Regions from separate parts of the Homo sapiens genome. Here all the other regions are reported to be linked to region 1. Evidence: microRNA targets listed by miRTarBase, many of them from high-throughput screens and not tested one by one. Region 1 holds a microRNA gene; each other region holds the end of a gene's coding sequence.
What was found. The annotated mature microRNA hsa-miR-202-5p reads UUCCUAUGCAUAUACUUCUUUG and lies in region 1 at 1,592-1,613, shown strand. An mRNA with a match to its seed (bases 2 to 7 or 8) in the 3' UTR can be bound and repressed. Matches are read on the target gene's strand: a 7mer-m8 pairs with bases 2 to 8, a 7mer-A1 pairs with bases 2 to 7 and ends in A, and an 8mer does both.

Region 1 (4,514 bases):
GGTCCATTGTGTGCGTGTCTGTGTGTGTCTCTGTGTACATCTGTGTCTCTGTGTGTCTACATGTCTGAGTGTGTCTCTGTCTACATGTCTGTGTCTCTGTGTGTGTCTATGTGTGTCTGTGTGTGTCTCTGTGTGTGTCTATGTGAGTCTATATGTGTCTACGTGTGTCTATGGGGGTCTCTGTGTGTCCCTGCCGCATGTGGGTGCTGCGTCGGGTCAGTCCTGAGACTCTGGCCCTACAGATCACAGGTGCTGGGGCCAGGCGCCCGCACGGGCCTGCCTAGCGACGTTGAGTCTCCCCGAGGACATGGTCACTGAAGAGGCCTCTGAGGCCTCAGCCTTGTTCCTTCACCAGCCTCCACTTGCCTACGTCCTGGGGAGAGACCGCTGGCTGGGGTTCAGAAGCCCTGTCCCTGGCCACCTGTGGAAGCCCTGTGCCCTGGCCTCCTCTGGGCCTCTTCCTTGTGTCCTGAGCCTGGGACACAGGGACAGCCCCAGACCTGCAGGAGTTCTGCTGCCTGCCTGGGCCCTTCGGCCGGGGGCTCCCTGGCCCTAGGAGAGGGTGTCTGCCTGCCTGTGTGGTCTCGCTCTGTGTGGGCAGCTGTGGGTCTGGCCAGCTGTCCCTGAGGGGCCCTCTCCCTCCGACCCTGCACTCTTGCCCCCAAGGCTGCAGAGCGTGGCCCCTCTCCACGTGCTCGCGGGCTCTGTGGCCCGGGGAAGGCTCTGGGCCTCACTGGACCAGTGTCCGCCTGATGCCGTGAATCCTCAGGGAGCCCCAGCTGTGGAGGCCGCCCCAGGCCAAGCAGGGCCACCTACCCTGGGGGTGGGGTCTGGTTCCCAGTGGCCAGGACAGTGTTGGACACGCTGGCTGGGGGTTCTGAGAGTCCCTGTGAGCCAGGAGGCTGCGGGTGCAGCCCAAGGTGCTGCTTATTGCTGAGCTGGGCAGGCCCAGGAAGGAGAGTCGGCCCCTTCCCTGGACAAGCGATTCTTGCTCACGTGTGCTTTCCGGGCCCCTGACGCAAGCAGAAGCGCGTGGGGAGATAAGGGTTGGAGGAGGCGGGGGGACAGGCTGGCCCCATCCCAGCTCCCGGGCCAGCAGCCCCCGGCCCACAGCCCTCGCCGCCCGCCCGCCCGGCGGGCCCTGGCTCAGCACTCTTCTCACAGCAGGTCTTTGTGCCCCAATCTGGCAGGTGCGGGGGTGCGACGGGGTCCTTGGCACAGAGCAGCCCTCTGGTTGCATGTGACAGCGGCGGCCAAGGTCTCCCCTGCGCATAAATGTGGAGCTCGCTCGGCAGCAGCAGAACTCCCGGCTCAGAGAGTTCTCCACCGCTCCTCCCAGGCTCACGAGGCTCACGGGCTACCCAGCGCCAGCGGCCCAGGAGGCTGGACCACAGGTAAGACGAGGCCCAAGGCCTGCCTCTGGGAACTCGGCCCTGGCTTGGCTCTGCCCTCCTCACTCCCACAGGATCTCCGTGCCCACCAGGCCTCAGTCCCGACTTCTCCCTGCTGCCCGGCACGGGACCCTCCCCCAGGACAGCCACCTCCCAGTGCTGAAGAGCCGGCCCGCCTCAGAGCCGCCCGCCGTTCCTTTTTCCTATGCATATACTTCTTTGAGGATCTGGCCTAAAGAGGTATAGGGCATGGGAAAACGGGGCGGTCGGGTCCTCCCCAGCGGCACCTGCACCAGTGCACCTGCACCTGCTCCAGCAGCACCTGCCTCCTGACTTGGGACTCCACCTGCTTCCTTTCTCCTCGGCCGGGAGCCCCGGGGCTTTGACCCCCACATCCTTGGGGCAGAAAGGGGCCAAATATTCTAAAACAAGGGAAACGTGGATGTGTGCTTTTGTGTGGGTTCTGGAAGTGTCTGGGGAGGACGTGGTCCAGGCCTCTGCCCTGGGTTGATCTCTGCAGCCCCTGAGCTGGGACCCAGGATGCAGAGAGGAGGGCTGGAGCTGGGCGGTGCTCTGTGACCAGTCTGACCGGAGTTGGGGGTGGACCCATTACAGGAGGTGGCGGGAGGGACAACCTGGGCTCTGGGGCCGCCTGGTGGTCGGGGGAAGTGGGGCGGGGTGCCTGGGATCTGGGCTCTGGCTGGGAGGATCCACAACTCATTCTTTGGACATTTTCTTTGCAGACTACGAAGCTGCACCGTGTGGGGCCCACTTTTTATACAAGCGGGTGGCGGTGGATCCAGGCGCAGACGGGAGTGAGGCGTGGCGGAGACGCGTGCACGCTGGGTCTGTGCACTTTTGCTGCTGCTGCTTTTTTTTTTTTTTTTTTTTTTTGAGATGGAGTCTCGTTCTGTCACCCAGGCTGGAGTGCAGTGGCGCGATCTCGGCTCACTACAACCTCTGTCTCCCGGGTTTAAGCGACTTTCCTGTCTCAGCCTCCCAAGTAGCTGAAACGACAGGCGCCTGCCACCATACCCGGCTAATTTTTTTATTTTTAGTAGAGATAGGGTTTCACCTTGTTAGGCTGGTCTTGAACTCCTGACCTCATGATCCACCTCACTCGGCCTCCCAAAGTGCTGGGATTACAGGCGTGAGCCACAGCGCCCGGCTGGCTGTTGCTTCTTAACACCTTTATTACTTTTGTAATCATGGGTATGAGTTGATTTTCTGGTCAGAAATTTCAGTAGAGCTAATTTCATTTAAATGTGTGAGATGTGGTAAAGTTTTGACAATAAATACAAATTTTGACAAAGCAGCTCTGTCGTGCTGGTCTCCTCTCGTTCACGGTGGTTGGACGTCACATTAGTCACGTGTGGACTTGGGGGAACTTAGTTAAAAATGCATAAACACGGGGGGATGAAACGGCTCCTGGGGCCTCGGTTGGGGGCCTGGGCTGGGCACCGGTCTGGGGCCACCCTTCTGATGACCAGAGCCTGGGACCGGCCGGCAGTGTTGGGAGAGCCCAGAGGGACGGCTTGTGAGGGTGGGGGGCACTGGTCTGTCCTGGGCGGGGGCCCCGCAGCTTCCAGGCCTCCACAATGGCCAGGGTGGGACTGCGGTCTTGACTTCCCACTGAAGAAAAATGGACAGGGGGTCCCTCATCAGCCCTGTTTAAAGAATGACAGTCGGCTGCTGTCTTAAAAGGAGGCCTGAACGGGAGTCGGGGAGGCCCCACCCTTCAGCCAGAGTCCTCGTCAGCCGGCAGGGCCACGCCCAGGTCTTTGAAGGCCACAGCCTTTATCACCAATGAGCCCAGCAAATGGAGCAATGAGCTGGCTGAGAGGCCCCCAGGCCGGTTATCAGGGGCTGCCTCCCCAGGCTGCGCCTCCTCTCCAAGCCTAGCACTAATCTCATCTGATAGTCACCTCCCACCTCCCTCACAGCCCGCAGCTGGGGTGTCCGAGGGGAAAGATCAGGCAGCAGGCAGAGGGGTGGGGTGCTTCCGGCCGGGGGGCCGCAGGCCACATGTGGAAGGGCAGCCACGCCCCCCACCCCAACGAGCTCGGCTGCTCCCCCTGCCCCCTAGGGAACGGTGGAGGTCGGCCCTGCTGGGGAGTCTCTTGCAGGCCTTCGAGTCACTCTCCACAGGACACCTGAACATAGGGCTTTAAAGCTGCACAGATAAAGCAGGTATTACCTCGCTGTGCTGTGCGGACATGCAGCAGCAGCTGTTACTCCAGACAGTGTCGGCAGAATGGGGATGCAGGCACGGCTGGATCCAGGGAGCCAAAGGCTCTGCCTCACTCTGCGCTCGTACCCCGCCTGGCTCCGTCCCTCCGCCTCACTCTGCGCTCGTACCCTGCCCAGCTCTGTCCCTGCAAGGCTGCGGTGTAATTAACAGCACCTGCTGGGCTGTGAAAGGAGAGGCCCCACTCTCCAGTATGGTGCCCATTTCCCCAGAAGAGCTGTGGTTCTGAGGGCTATGCCCTCCCTGGGATCTGGGCTGGGTGAGCTGGGCCGTGTGCCCTCACCTGTACTGCAGGGTGGGCGGCTTGCTGGGCAGGGAGAGGGATGAATTCCCCCAGGAAGATGGGCAGGGCTCCTGCCAAGACCCCACCAAGGTGGCTGTCCAGGCTTGCCAAGACATGCCCACGTATCAGGTCCAGCCACTGAGACCCTGCTGAGGGCATTGGAAGGAGCACAGGGGCCAGGACGGGGCTGGAAGGCGTCCCAGAAACGGAGGCCTCCTGGCCACAGCCCCCCGGTCCTGAGGCCGTTGTCCTGTGAATGGTAGGTGGGGGCTGAGGGGCACCATGGGGGAGTGGCTCACTGTGGCTTCTGTGGACAGCCAGGCTGGGAATGAGGGTCCTCCTGGCCTGGGAACAAGAGGAAGCCCTCTGAGACCCTGCCTTGGGGAGTACTCAGGAGCCCCAGGAGTCCCCTGAGAAGCTGACCGCCACTCTGGGGCATGAACGGAACCTTTCTGAGGTGGGGGTGGCAGAGCCTCCCAGCCAGGCTGCAGAGGCAATGGGGGGAGGGCCAGCGCTTCTGGTACTTACCTTTTTTTTTTTTTTTTTGAGTTGGTGTCTTGCTCTGTTGCACAGGCTGGAATGCACTGGCACG
Region 2 (4,256 bases), not on the chromosome of region 1:
TGCTGTGGCGTGATCTCAGCTCACTGCTACCTCCGCCTCCTGGGTTCAAACGATTCTCCTGCCTCAGCCTCCTGAGTAGCTGGGACTACAGGCACGCACCACCACGTCTGGCTAATTTTTGTATTTTTAGTAGAGACGGGGTTTTACCATGTTGGCCAGGCTGGTCTCGAACTTCTGACCTCAGGTGATCCACCTGCCTCGGCCTCCCAAAGTGCTGGGATTACAGGCATGAGCCACCGTGCCCGGCCTATAAATGATCTTTCATAAGTGCTAAGAGATAGGGAAGAAACAGTGCTGATCTGGGCCTCCCAATTAAGGAGATAACTGGTGTTTGGACACATTTACAAACCCATTTATTGAGTTCTTCAAATACTAAGATGAGAATTTGAACTCTGTGACCAATTTTTTTTTTTTCAAGAGATGGGGGTCTCGCTATGTTGCCTACAGTGGGGTACAGTAGCTGGCTATTCACAGGCATCATCATAGCCCACTAGTCTCGAACTCCTGGGCTTCAGCAATCCTCCTGCCTCGGCCTTCGAGTAGTAGCTGGGACTAAAGGCACATGCTACCACACTGGGCTTAAATTTTTTATCTTAAGTCACTCTTGGTTCAGGCTCAAAGACTTAACAACTTCTCTGTTCTGTTTTCCAGAGAGATGGCTGCCCAAAGATTGTCAATCTGGGGAGCTCTAAGACAGACCTCTTCTATGAACGCAAAAAATACGGCTTCAAGAAGAGGTGATTGGTGGGTGGCCCCTTCCTCCCCCCAACATCAGTCTGCTGCAGCTGCCAGAAAACATGCCTACTACTACCAGCAGAAAGGGAGCAGAGCCCAGAGCATCACCAGGAGTGCCTGCTAGTGTACTGGCAGCTTGCCACCCCCTCCTCTCCCTTCACCCAGACACGTGGTAGGGATGGAAAAGGATTCTTCACAGAGCACTCTGGCACACCATATCGGAGAAAACTTGATAGATTAGTTAATGGTTTTTCTTGAATTCGAGAAGCAAAGATCTGTTCTCCATATTGGTATGTTCTCCCTCAACCAAGATCTTCTAAAAAGAAATAATATTTTAGTCTTCTGCTTGAGGAACTGACTGTGAAGCGACGCCCAGTGAAAAACATGTTCTTGCAGCAGCTCTGGTGGCAGCTGTCCTTGAGGAACCTTTGGTGTGTGGTGGGAAGCTATCAGAACAAGAAATGTAGGCATTTCCCGTTTTTTTTGGGGGGGGGGTGGGGGGGCAGGGCTCTGCCCTCTTGAAAGGCATTTACTTGTTTAACACTTGTCCAGCTACAGTGGGGTACAGTAGCTGGCTATTCACAGGCATCATCATAGCCCACTAGTCTCATATTATTTTCCTTTTGAGAAATTGGAAACTCTTTCTGTTGCTATTATATTAATAAAGTTGGTGTTTATTTTCTGGTAGTCACCTTCCCCATTTAACTTTAACTCTAGGAATTTATTTTAGTCACCCAGGAATTTGTGATTCAAAACAGAGGTAGTGGGATTGGTTAAGTACTTTGTCCTCTTATTACCACTGGAAGGAATTCAAAACCACCCATACCTTTCATTATAGATAGATCAAAGTCATCTTTAGAAACGTACTATTTTTTCCTTCCTGTCCAACTTTAATTTTGAACTGAAGAGATAGCTTCCAGTTATGGTGGAGGCTGGGCACAGTAGCCCATGCCTGTAATCCCAGCACTTTGGGAGGCTCAGGCAGGCGGATCTTGAGCCCAGGAGTTCAAGACCGGCCTGGGCAACATGGCAAAAACCCATCTCTATGAAAAATATGAAAACTAGTCAGGTATAGTGGCATGCACCTGTAGTTTAGTCCCAGCTACTCAGAAGGCTGAGATGGGAGGATCCCTTGAGCCTTGGAGATTGAGGCTGCAGTGAACAGTGATCCCGCCACTGCACACCAGCCTGGGTGACAGAGCAAGACTGCCTCAAAAAAAAAAAAAAAAGATGGGCTGGGCGCGGTGGCTCACACCTGTAATCCTAGCACTTTGGGAGGCCAAGGCAGGCGGATCACTTGAGCCCAGGAGTTCGAGATCAGGCTGGCCAACATGGCAAAACTCCGTCACTGCTAAAAATACAAAAATTAACCAGGCATGGTGGCACTGTGCGCCTGTAGTCCCAGCTACTCGGGACGCTGAGACAGGAGAATTGCTTGAACCTAGGAGGCAGAGGTTGCAGTGAGCCGAGATCGTGCCATTGCACTCCAGCCTGGGCAGCAAGAGTGAAACTCCATCTCACACACACACAAAAAAAGGTTCCAGTATAACCCAGAGGATGCACAAAGGAAGGGTTCTAGGCCTAGCTTGGAGGTACCACAGGAAGGCAGGGGAAGGCCATGGCCATAGGACTACAGCACTTTCCGGGCGCTTTTGGCCACCCCTTTCTCTGCACTGCAGCCATAGGCTCCTTTTCAGTTCCACAACTGCTGCTTTCCTTTTGGCTTCTGCTTTGGGTTTATTTTTAACATGTTGATCCCTCTAGAATGCTTGTGCCCCCCTCCCTTTTACTCAGCTAACCCCTACTCCCTTCTGACCTTAGCCAAATATTTCCTCAAAGATGCCTCTCCGGACCCTTAATCTAAGTTCCCCTTGTACTCCCACTTAGCATCCTATGTGGTTTTTTGGTTTGGTTGGTTGGTTTTGAGACGGCATCTCTGTCACCCAGGCTGGAGTGCAGTGGCACGATCTCAGCTCACTGCAACCTCTACTTCCCAGACTCAGCAATCCTCCCACCTCAGGCTCTGGAATAGCTGGGACTACAGGCATGCACCACCCTGCCCAGCTAGTTTTTTGTTTTTGTTTTCGAGATGGAATTTTGCACTGTTGCCCTGGCTGGAGTGCAGTGGCGCAATCTCCGCTCACTGCAACCTCCACCTCCCAGATTCAAGTGATTCTCCTGCCTCAGCCTCCCTAGTAGCTGGGATTACAGATGCACGCCACCACACCCAGCTAATTTTTTGTATTTTTAGTAGAGATGGGGTTTCACTGTGTTGGCCAGGCTGGTCTTGAACTGACCTCGTGATCCGCCCACCTTGGCCTCCCAAAGTACTGGGATTACAGGCGTGAGCCACCAAGCCTGGCCTGTTTTTTGTATTTTTTATAGAGACAAGGTCTCGCTGTGTTGCCCAGACTGGTCTCAAGCTCCTGGATTCAAGTTACCCTCCTGCCTCAGCCTCCCAAAGTGCTGTGAATACAGGTGTGAGCCACCACACCCAACCCTATGTGTTTTCTTAAAGCATTTGGTGATTAGTGAAAGTAACCTACGACCGTGTCTACAAGAGCAGGAAGCAAGTTTGTTTTGCCCAGTAGGTAGCAGGTAGGTGTTCAGTATTGAATGAATGCTTGAAGTCAAGGAAACTGGATAATAAACTGGACTTTGATATGTCAGAACCTACAGGCAAAGGGTGCAGTAGGCAAATAAGGGCATTTGTTGGGGGGGGCATCAACTTGAGCAAAGACAGTCGTGAACAGGGTGATATGTATTGATTCGGATATGGTCTCACTTTGTCCCCCAACCTGGAGTGCAGTGTCATGAACACGGCTCATTGCAGCCTCGACCCCCTGGGCTCAAACAATCCTCCCAACTCAGCCTCCTGAGTAGCTGGGAGGTGTGAACCAGCATGCCCAGCTTTTTTTTTTTTTTTTTTTTTTTTTTTTTTTTTTTTTTTGTAGAGACAGGGTTTCACCATATTGGCCAGACTGGTCTTGAACTCCTGAGGTCAAGCGATCTGCCTGCCTTGGCTTCCAAAGTTAGGATAATAGGCATGAGCCACCACCCCCAGCCTAGGGCGATGTGTGTAGGGAGCTCTGAGCAATTCTAATGCATCAGTGAGGTGATTGCTATGGTTTGAATGTTTGTCCCCTCTAAAACTCATGTTGAAACTTGATTCCCAATGTGGCAGTATTCAGAAGTGGGACCTTCAAGAAATGATTGGGTCATGAAGGCTCTGCCCGCATGAGGGGATTCATCCTTTCACTTTTTTTTTTTTTTTTTTTTTTTTGAGCCGGCGTCTCTGTCACCCATGCTGGAGTGCAGTGGCATGATCTCAGCTCACTGCAACCTCCACCTCCCAGGTTCAAGCAATTCCCCTGCCTCAGCCTCTTGAGTAGCTGGAACTACAGGCACGTGCCACCATGCCCAGCTAATTTTTGTGTTCACCACCATGCCTGGTTAATTTTTGTAATTTTATTAGTGACAGGGTTTCACCATATTAGCCAGGCTGGTCTTGAACTCCTGAC
Region 3 (4,256 bases), not on the chromosome of region 1:
CAGTGGGCTCTGACTCTGGTGCAGCTCAAATATACCATCCACCAGAGGGATCTAGTTACTTTCCACTCACCCAAAGTTTGGCTGCTGGGTTCGCTCGGCAGCTTCCTCTCTTCCCTTCCCAATCCAGACACTTTCTGAGGGGTAAGCGCAGGCCCAAACTCCCTCTGCTAGACTGCTGCTTTCAGAGCCTCGCTCCCTCCAGCTCACTGCGCGATCTGACTCAGACCTCTTGGCCTATGGCCCACTGAGGGCCAGTGGGAGGCCTGTCTCACTGAGATGACAGGTTCTCATGAGAATCAGCGAGGCCCAGTGATTCTGTGCCCCCAGAGGCAGCCTCAGGACACTCTCTTCCTGCCACTGGATTTCCTGGAGACCAGATTCAAGCACAGGAAAAGTCTGACCTTATCTGTGCACGAGCTGCTCTTGGAAAGAACGTAATTTTTCTCCCTGCTCTAAGAAGAAAATCAGTCTACAAATCCTGGTTGTTTTCTGCTGTGAGTTTAAATGAAATTGCCAACAGCATATACAATGTGTAGGGATTGAATTACACTCCCTCCTGTTCCATCCACGGGATTATCGGTACTCTCTTCAGTACCCAAGGTGAGGCGCCCACTCCTGCCGACACCATGAGAGCTGCCAGGGAGAAGTGACTGTCCTTGGCTTCGTGGAGTCTGGATTCTTCTATCACACAATCCACACCTCATATCGTTGCCAGGAGGGTATGGTGAAGGGGAGCATGGATACAATGACTGAGCACAGCTCAAGCCTGGCTTCCCCAAGCTAACACAGCAAAGCCTGCCACCTTCTCTGGAAGACCCAGTGCGGCTGTTTGGAAAGTCAGAATTCAACAAGGCAAGTGTGTTTGGGAATCAGTGGAAATGCCCGCCTGCCAGTGTGGGTGATCCTCCTTAATACGAAAGCCCTGGTTTCAAGCAGCAGTGACCAGGCTATCATTGTGTTTGACAGACCCAGCACCAGCCCCCGTTGGGCCCCAGCTGGCCTGTCCCGAGCTCCCTAAGTAGGGATGCCAAATCCTACTCACTAGCAGGAAATCCTGGTTCAAGTGATGTCAACTAGTAGTGCACAATTCTCCCTACAAAATGGAAAATTCTGTTTACTTTAGGAGGGAGACTTTGGTGACCTCAGGTTGGGGTTGAGGGGACAGCCTTTCCTCACAGTCTTGACATGCTTTCTCCCTGCCTGTCAGTTCTCCCATCCATGGTGACTGGAGATTCCAGCTGGGGGTTGCAACAGAGAAGCTGGGTTCATGCCAGTCACCCAGGCCTGTCCCCCGCTACCTAGAAGACAGAGAGCTCAGGGTGCTACTACCAACTGTGCTGGCAGAACGCTTTTCTCCACACCTTGGCAATGCTAGTTAAACCACATCTTAGCAGCAAAAAGCCGTCTGCCCCACATGTGTTGGCCCTTTGTTGTCATTTTTACAAGTGAAATGGATCCTCTGCATTCACCTAGTGAATGGACTGAGATGCCAGAGGGCTGGGCAGAGTGGCCCCTGGGGGCTTCACCTGCTCCAGAGGAAATCTGGGAAGCATTCCTTTTATCCAGTAAACAAAGAGCACACTGAGGGTATGGGGCCATGGAAGGAACAGTCACTGTCCAAGGACAACACCCCTCCCACCGGGTGCCACCTGAACTCAAGATGCAGGAAGGTACCTACTTCCCACACCACTCACAACACATCTCGTTAGAAGGAGGTCATCAGAAGGAAAGAGGGGAAATTGACAGTTTTTTTCCCTACTATAAAAAGGCCAGGCTAAATCAAGACATTTCTGCCCAAAAAATTGTTTTTACTAGTCACTAAAAAAGTATCAAAATGTTTGCTTTTATCCAAAGATATTAAATACCCCAGACCTTCCTCAAAATAACATTTAACTGCACTTTGTCATTAACTTCCTTTCTAAACCTTCTAATACTACAACTTTCAACACTTCAGTGCTTTTTTTAATATATAATTCTTCATTATGACAAGCTTCATTTTAAAAACGAGAGTGAGGCATCTCTGGCAAAATCCACAAATTTAGGGACCATCTTTGCCCAGTCACTAAAATAAGATGGAATTGTACCAGAGCAGCCACTTTTGGATATTTTTAAAATTTTTAACCTGAAGAGACTGTTCATGTTCTGGTTATTTATAGCTACTCATACAGCCACAGAATATAAATTCACATAATAGGAGGAAGGGGGGAATCTTAATTTTAAGAGTAATTTACACGTGTATTTTTTTTTCTTTTGGGAGAATTTTACAGGATGAAAACCGATTCAGGTAGGGCCCCTAAGTAAATTAGCTGTATCTAAATCGTAAGTCTGTCTTCTCTCTCTCAAGAGTGTAATCACTGAGAATCAAAATGTGTATGAATTGTCCTGCATCCAACACAGGGTGGAAATAATGCTCCCCAGGACTCTGAAGGGGAAAGTCCTACACAACATCACACAGATGCACCGAGAGGGCTGCGGGGCTGTTCTAAGAAGCCCCCACCCCGGACAGCTGGAGTCCAACTAGGTTCCCTCTCCCAGCCTATTGACAAAAAGCCACAAAGGATTCCCAGGCATAAACAAATCAAATCAAACAGTGAAGTCTGAATGTTCGAACTCACTTTTACATGCCTAGAAAATCCTCCCATCAATAAGACCCTTTGGGGCCAAATAAGGGAACTGGGGGATATTCCACCTCTGCTCCCCCACACCAAGGCCCTGCCCTTCCAAGGGCACAGCAGCCAAGCCAGGGAGCCGATGAGGGGAAGGGGCAGACCTTCCCCCTGCTCTAAAGGTCTGGGTTGTGAGTTGAAGTCTGACAAAAGCATTTTTGAGTGGCTTCACTTCCCGTTACTATCACACTGCCAACAACTACAGCAACAACACAGCGAAAGCAGGTAAAAAGCGGAGGCCGACTTACTTGATAACTAGCACAAGCCCGAGTCGGCCCCGGGAGCTTCCGCCTACCTGGCCGGCAAGCCGGAGTCCTCGGCTGGAGTGGGCCCCAGGACACCTCCTTGCCTTTCAAGCCCTGAGAGCCTCTTCCCTGGCTTCTTAGGAAAACCTCCTGGCAGGTCTCTAGGAAAAGCAGTAGCTCCCCTCCCCCAGCCCCACCTTCCCCATTCCGGGCCATTGCACTAACTTCCTCCTGAGCCACCCGAGGCATGGCTCCCACCTCCCCCTGACCAACTGGGGAGCTTCCGAACCTGGCAGATCCTATCCCACCCCAATATCCTGTTAGATCAGACTCAGCCGTTTAAAAGAAAAATATCCTTTCCACTTTCCATAACATTTCCTATTGGAATTGATTAAAAAAAAAAAAAAAAAAGGCGGGGGGGGGGGGGGGGGTGGCGGTACCGACCTTTGCAGAAATCTGGGAAGCTCCACAACAGCTACTTTCAGACAAAACTTCCCTTTCAAAAATGAAGCAGGGGCACGTTAAATTTTAAAAGTTAAAAAAAGAAAGATGCTTTTTGCAGCAGTTCCAGGGTAAACGGCCCCATGCAACACAAACCCTCGGGAAGGGCATTACAGCCTTGCAGTGGGTCACGGAGTGCACCACGCGGCGCTCAGCCCCCCAGGGAAGCGATGCCCCACATCGGGCCAGAAACAAAAGGGGGTGAGATAAAGCATGCTCGAGTACCCCTTTGGTTCTCCCATTCTGGAACTTCGAATTTCCTAACCCGTTGTTGCTACCTGATTTTCGTGCCTCTAACTGCAACATCAGCACAAACACCTTCCTCTCCCTAAATGGGGGCAGTGGGCGCCATGGTTATCTGTTTGCAAAATACACAGGGCTTTGACATTCGGTACCGGCAGGTCATCTCTTCCCAAGGCTTTCACATGCTGTCCCCGGTAAATGTGTGCGTGACTGCACGAGTGTGTGTGAGTGTGAACGTGTGCTCTCCCTCCTCTGAGAGGGTGCTGGGTCACATCGGACATGCACCCACGCTCGGTGACAGGGTGGCCCGCTGCTGCTCATCAGCTGGGGATCCTCGGCCGCGTGGCTGCCCCCTCCCCGGCCCTCGCGCTACCTGCAGCCGCAGGCCTCCACCACCATGTCCTCGTATTGCTTGTAGACAACGTTGTTGGCGGCGTCGATGTAGAGGATGCTGATGGGGCTGAGGCGCGCTGGCACACAGCAGGAGGCCGGCGCCGCGTCTGGTGCCATGGAGTTGAGCAGCGTCTGAATGATGGCATGGTTGGTGGGCTCGAGGTGCGAACGCAAAGGGAAGTCGCAAAGGCCCTCGCAGTGGTACGCC
Region 4 (4,256 bases), not on the chromosome of region 1:
CCTCCTCTGTAGTTCCATCAGCATAAGAAGTCTTCTAACAGAATGCTTATCAAGGTTTAAAGACAGTTACCTCAGCTAGGTGGACCTGTAATCCCAGGACTTTTAGGAGGCTGAGGCAGAAGGATCACTTGAGCCCACGAGTTCAAGACCAGCCTGGGCAACATAGTGAGAACCCTTCTCTACTAACAGTTAAAAAATTAGCCAGATGTAATGGTGCATGCCTGTATTCCCAGCTACTGGGGAGGTTGAGGAAGGAGAATTGCTTGAGCCCAGAAGTTGGAAGCTGCAGTAACCTACGATTGCACCACTGCACTCCAGCCTGGACAACAGAGCGAGACCGTGTCTCAAAAAAACAAAAACCAGTTAATTCTGTCTCCGCACAGTGGTTCCAGATGGGCCGCGTCTTGCAGGAGACTTTGAGATTTCTAGTAATTTCTTCCTAGGTGAGATTTTCTTTTTAGGGATTTAGTAACTTCACTGTCTGGTTGATATGTGCAATTAGTGTGGCATCCTGGTCTTTGGGTAGGGGCTGAGTTACCTAGGCTTCCCTTTTTTGACTGGTTTCCCTGGCTTGCTGTCTTCCAGGTGGCTTTGGCTGAAGCCTAATTCCACAGCTCCTTGTTTTTTGAGAGAGACTGAGAGAACCATAATCCTTGCCTGCTGAACCCAGCCTGGGCCTGGATGCTCTGTGAATACATTATCTTGCGATGTTGGGTTATTCCAGCCAAAGACATTTCAAGTGCCTGTAACTGATTTGTACATATTTATAAAAATCTATTCAGAAATTGGTCCAATAATGCACGTGCTTTGCCCTGGGTACAGCCAGAGCCCTTCAACCCCACCTTGGACTTGAGGACCTACCTGATGGGACGTTTCCACGTGTCTCTAGAGAAGGATTCCTGGATCTAGCTGGTCACGACGATGTTTTCACCAAGGTCACAGGAGCATTGCGTCGCTGATGGGGTTGAAGTTTGGTTTGGTTCTTGTTTCAGCCCAATATGTAGAGAACATTTGAAACAGTCTGCACCTTTGATACGGTATTGCATTTCCAAAGCCACCAATCCATTTTGTGGATTTTATGTGTTTGTGGCTTAATAATCATAGTAACAACAATAATACCTTTTTCTCCATTTTGCTTGCAGGAAACATACCTTAAGTTTTTTTTGTTTTGTTTTTGTTTTTTTGTTTTTTGTTTTCCTTTATGAAGAAAAAATAAAATAGTCACATTTTAATACTACTCTAGTTAGGACAGACTTGTGCTTTTATCCTGACTAAAAAGTTAAATATTTAAGTCACATACATGGTAAAGATCTAAGTTTCATTTTCCACATGGATGACCAGGAACCTGGTCTTGTTGGAGCTGGCATAGGAGGTTCTACTGTCTTGTCGTCCACTCTTGTCCCTCCCTTCTGTTATCAAAGTTAAAGCGCCTCTTCACTCAAAAGGGCTTCAAAATGTAAATGGCTCTAGAGTTAGAGTGACTGTTTGCTCTTCTGCTTTCTGGAATGCAGATGACAGTATGGAAAGAAAGAATAATGATTCTATCTAATAGGAAAGGATTTCTTCTTTCTTTTTTAAAGAGTGGGTGGATTTTCTCCCTTTTGTTTTGCTTTTATTTTCATGCTACTAACATATCTTCAGAAGGAAATGGCAACTAGTAGATCAGTAAAATTACGAAAACGATGCCTGCAAAATTTGAAGGAATGCAATTCTGATTTGCCATTTATCAGGGAAAACTGAAAGCATTTTTCTTATAACTTTTTTTCTTTTTCTTTTTTTTTGGAGGGGGGAGGCAGGGTCTTGCTCTGTCCCTCAGGCTGGAGCTTAGCTCAGTGCAGCCTCCAACTCCTGGGCTCAAGCAATCCTCCCACTTTAGCCTCCTGAGTAGCTGGGACTACAGGCGTGTGCCAGCGCGCCTGGCTAATTTTAAAATTTTTTTGTAGAGACAGAGTCTCCCTCTGTTGCCCAGGCTGGTCTGGAACTCCTAGCTTCAAATGATCCTCTCACCTCGGCCTCCCAAAATCCTGGGATTCCAGGCGTCAGCCACTGCTCTCGGCCCTCTTACACCATTTTGTTTGATTGTCTAGTCCCTGTTTCTTTTTCTTTCTAATCCTTATTCATTTAAGCAAAACCATACATTATCTTTTCCAGTCCTTTCTTGTATTCTTACTGTTTTTTTAAAATAACTTTTTGCCTTAATAGCTCATTGTCACTAATAACTTCTGTGTTCTCCCAGGCAGTGTTATAACAGAAGGGCAATGAAAACATTGGACATGACCATGAGTGCTTCCTTTCCTTAACTCTAGGTTTGTAGTCTGTTTTAAATTAGGATTAGTTCCTGCATTCTGAAATACATTGGCCTAGAACATTTTATCCCAGGCATTTTTGAATAGAAAACAGTTGCGTGCTTTTATTGAAGATTGTTAAAATAATCACCATAGTAACTTGATATGTTAGTATTTTTCTTTTTCCTTTTAGTATGTTTCAAGTGCAGTAATCGTACTTGTCTATCCAGTTTCTATGTATGATACGAGTTGCTTACACGATGCATGGCTAACTTGTTAATTTAGTTTTCTCCTTAGAGACTTTGAGACCCTTAAGAGACAAGATTGAGAAAGAGCCATGTGGCTTGGCTCTAGAAACGTCATTATCATTAGGACCATCAGATTTTAGATTAAGCTGCTATTGAATTAATAAAATCCCAATGAAGCAGAGTTATAGGGATAGATTTATAGCTGGCAGAGTGGTATCAAAGGAGAAAAACAGTGAAAAAGCCAATTTCACTGGTTCGTTCAATCCAGCTTGTTGCTAATATTAGTTACCCTTGTTTTAATGACAGAGAGTGGCTGGAATCTGTAGCTAGGGGAGGGGCAACACTGTTAGATGTGAGGAAAGGAAGTGCCAAAAATGCCTGGACAGATGGCTTGTCCCAAGGCCAGGACACACACTTTAAAATCCAACATTCACCTAAGCAAGTAATTCTTAAAGATCTTACAGAAACGCAGAGTCAATCAGGTTTATAAAGGAAGGCTGAGGGGAGAGAGGAGGCCTGGGGGCCTGGACGAAGAGGCCTAGGACCTGAAGAGACTCCAGCGAGTCTCGGGAAGCCCAGGGGACCTGTCACCATCTGGGCACTTCCCAGGCTCAATGCTCAGCCAGAGTTTGCTGGTGGACCTCAGGATTCGAAGTGTGCAACAGACGGAGTGCGCTTGCTGTTCAGGGCGGCCCCGTGCAGGAGCACCAGCTCACCCTCAGGCATCTCGGACTGGAGGGCCAGCAGAAGGTCAGCAACTTACTCTTAAAACGATTGTTTCGGATCATATTGATCTCTTTCCTTTTTCCTTTTGTCCTTTCACTGTATGACTTGAATCAGTTTTGATTCTATTTGTAAGTGTTTCTTGTCGTGAGGCACCTGCCATGTCTGTTGCGTTTTCCTCGGCAGCGTGTAGGGCTTCAGCTTCCTGGGTTTTCACCCTTCCTGCAGGCACTGTGGGGTCCTGAGGGCCAGTGGGTCCATTTCACCTCTTGCTGCATGATGGTCAGTAGCTGATCTGTTATGGCATTCACTTCCAGATTAATTTTCCGTGTTTGAAGTATGTGCATATGTGCTTTACAGAATAAAACATCTGAATTTATTTGCTCCGCGTCTTCTTCCTCCAGCCGGATGGGTGTTTTCTAAGGGAAGAACGTGTGCGATCAGCAGCTGAGGGTTTTTTGCAAGCTGCTGCTTTGAAATGTCACTTCTCATTTGGACGAGGGGTGGTCATTATTCTGCTGAAGGCAGCCTCACCCAGCACATGCATCTTCCCCCTGAGGGTACAAAACCTCCTGTAGCTTGCTAGACCAACAAGTGCTTGCAGGCCTGACCCTAATCCTGCCCAAGGAAGTAAATAATAAATACCAGCAGGGAGCACTGAATAGACATAGGAGTTCCAAGACACCCCTCTCGGTGACATAAACCCTCAGCATGCACTAAGCCTGTATGCCCAGCCGCAGGTGCCCAGCCCGCTCTGCGGTCTCCTGTTGCAGAGCTCTGGCCCGCTCTAGACCTCCTTTGCCAAGACAGTGCATCCTCTGCAGTTTCCATAGCTAAAGGGAGATCGTATTCACTAATGTGAATCCTTCCCCTTTCCAGCAGCCAGAGGCTCTGTGTCCCTTCCCTTCCCTCCCCAGCAGGTGCTGGGGTCGCAAGGTCAGTCTCATGGTTGAGGAAGGTGCTACTCAATGAGCTCTTTGTTCCTTCTGCCTCCACCTCT

Region 2: the mRNA of PHF5A is a reported target of hsa-miR-202-5p. The part of its 3' UTR that is shown has no 7-base or 8-base seed match.
Region 3: the mRNA of GDF7 is a reported target of hsa-miR-202-5p. Seed matches in the 3' UTR shown: 7mer-A1 at 3,287-3,293.
Region 4: the mRNA of TMEM248 is a reported target of hsa-miR-202-5p. Seed matches in the 3' UTR shown: 7mer-m8 at 1,365-1,371 and 7mer-A1 at 1,549-1,555.

The regions. Positions count from the first base shown.
Region 1 is chr10:133,244,671-133,249,184 of GRCh38, reverse strand. MIR202 (microRNA 202) reads left to right here and starts at 1,565; the gene lies at 1,565-1,674. It overlaps MIR202HG (MIR202 host gene), which reads left to right and starts at 1,300. Exons shown (of 2, transcript NR_108079.1): 1 at 1,300-1,394; 2 at 2,135-2,706. RefSeq lists enhancers at 378-892, 1,409-1,923, 3,492-4,344, 3,676-4,514 and a silencer at 2,009-2,128.
Region 2 is chr22:41,456,883-41,461,138 of GRCh38, reverse strand. It overlaps PHF5A (PHD finger protein 5A), which reads left to right. Exons shown (of 4, transcript NM_032758.4): 4 at 652-1,422. The coding sequence ends at 741. Among named protein-coding and RNA genes, the nearest start is that of PHF5A, 9.7 kb to the left of the region's middle.
Region 3 is chr2:20,671,194-20,675,449 of GRCh38, reverse strand. GDF7 (growth differentiation factor 7) reads right to left here. Exons shown (of 2, transcript NM_182828.4): 2 at 1-4,256. The coding sequence ends at 4,025. Among named protein-coding and RNA genes, the nearest start is that of GDF7, 6.2 kb to the right of the region's middle.
Region 4 is chr7:66,954,917-66,959,172 of GRCh38, forward strand. TMEM248 (transmembrane protein 248) reads left to right here. Exons shown (of 7, transcript NM_017994.5): 7 at 586-3,635. The coding sequence ends at 606. Among named protein-coding and RNA genes, the nearest start is that of TMEM248, 36 kb to the left of the region's middle.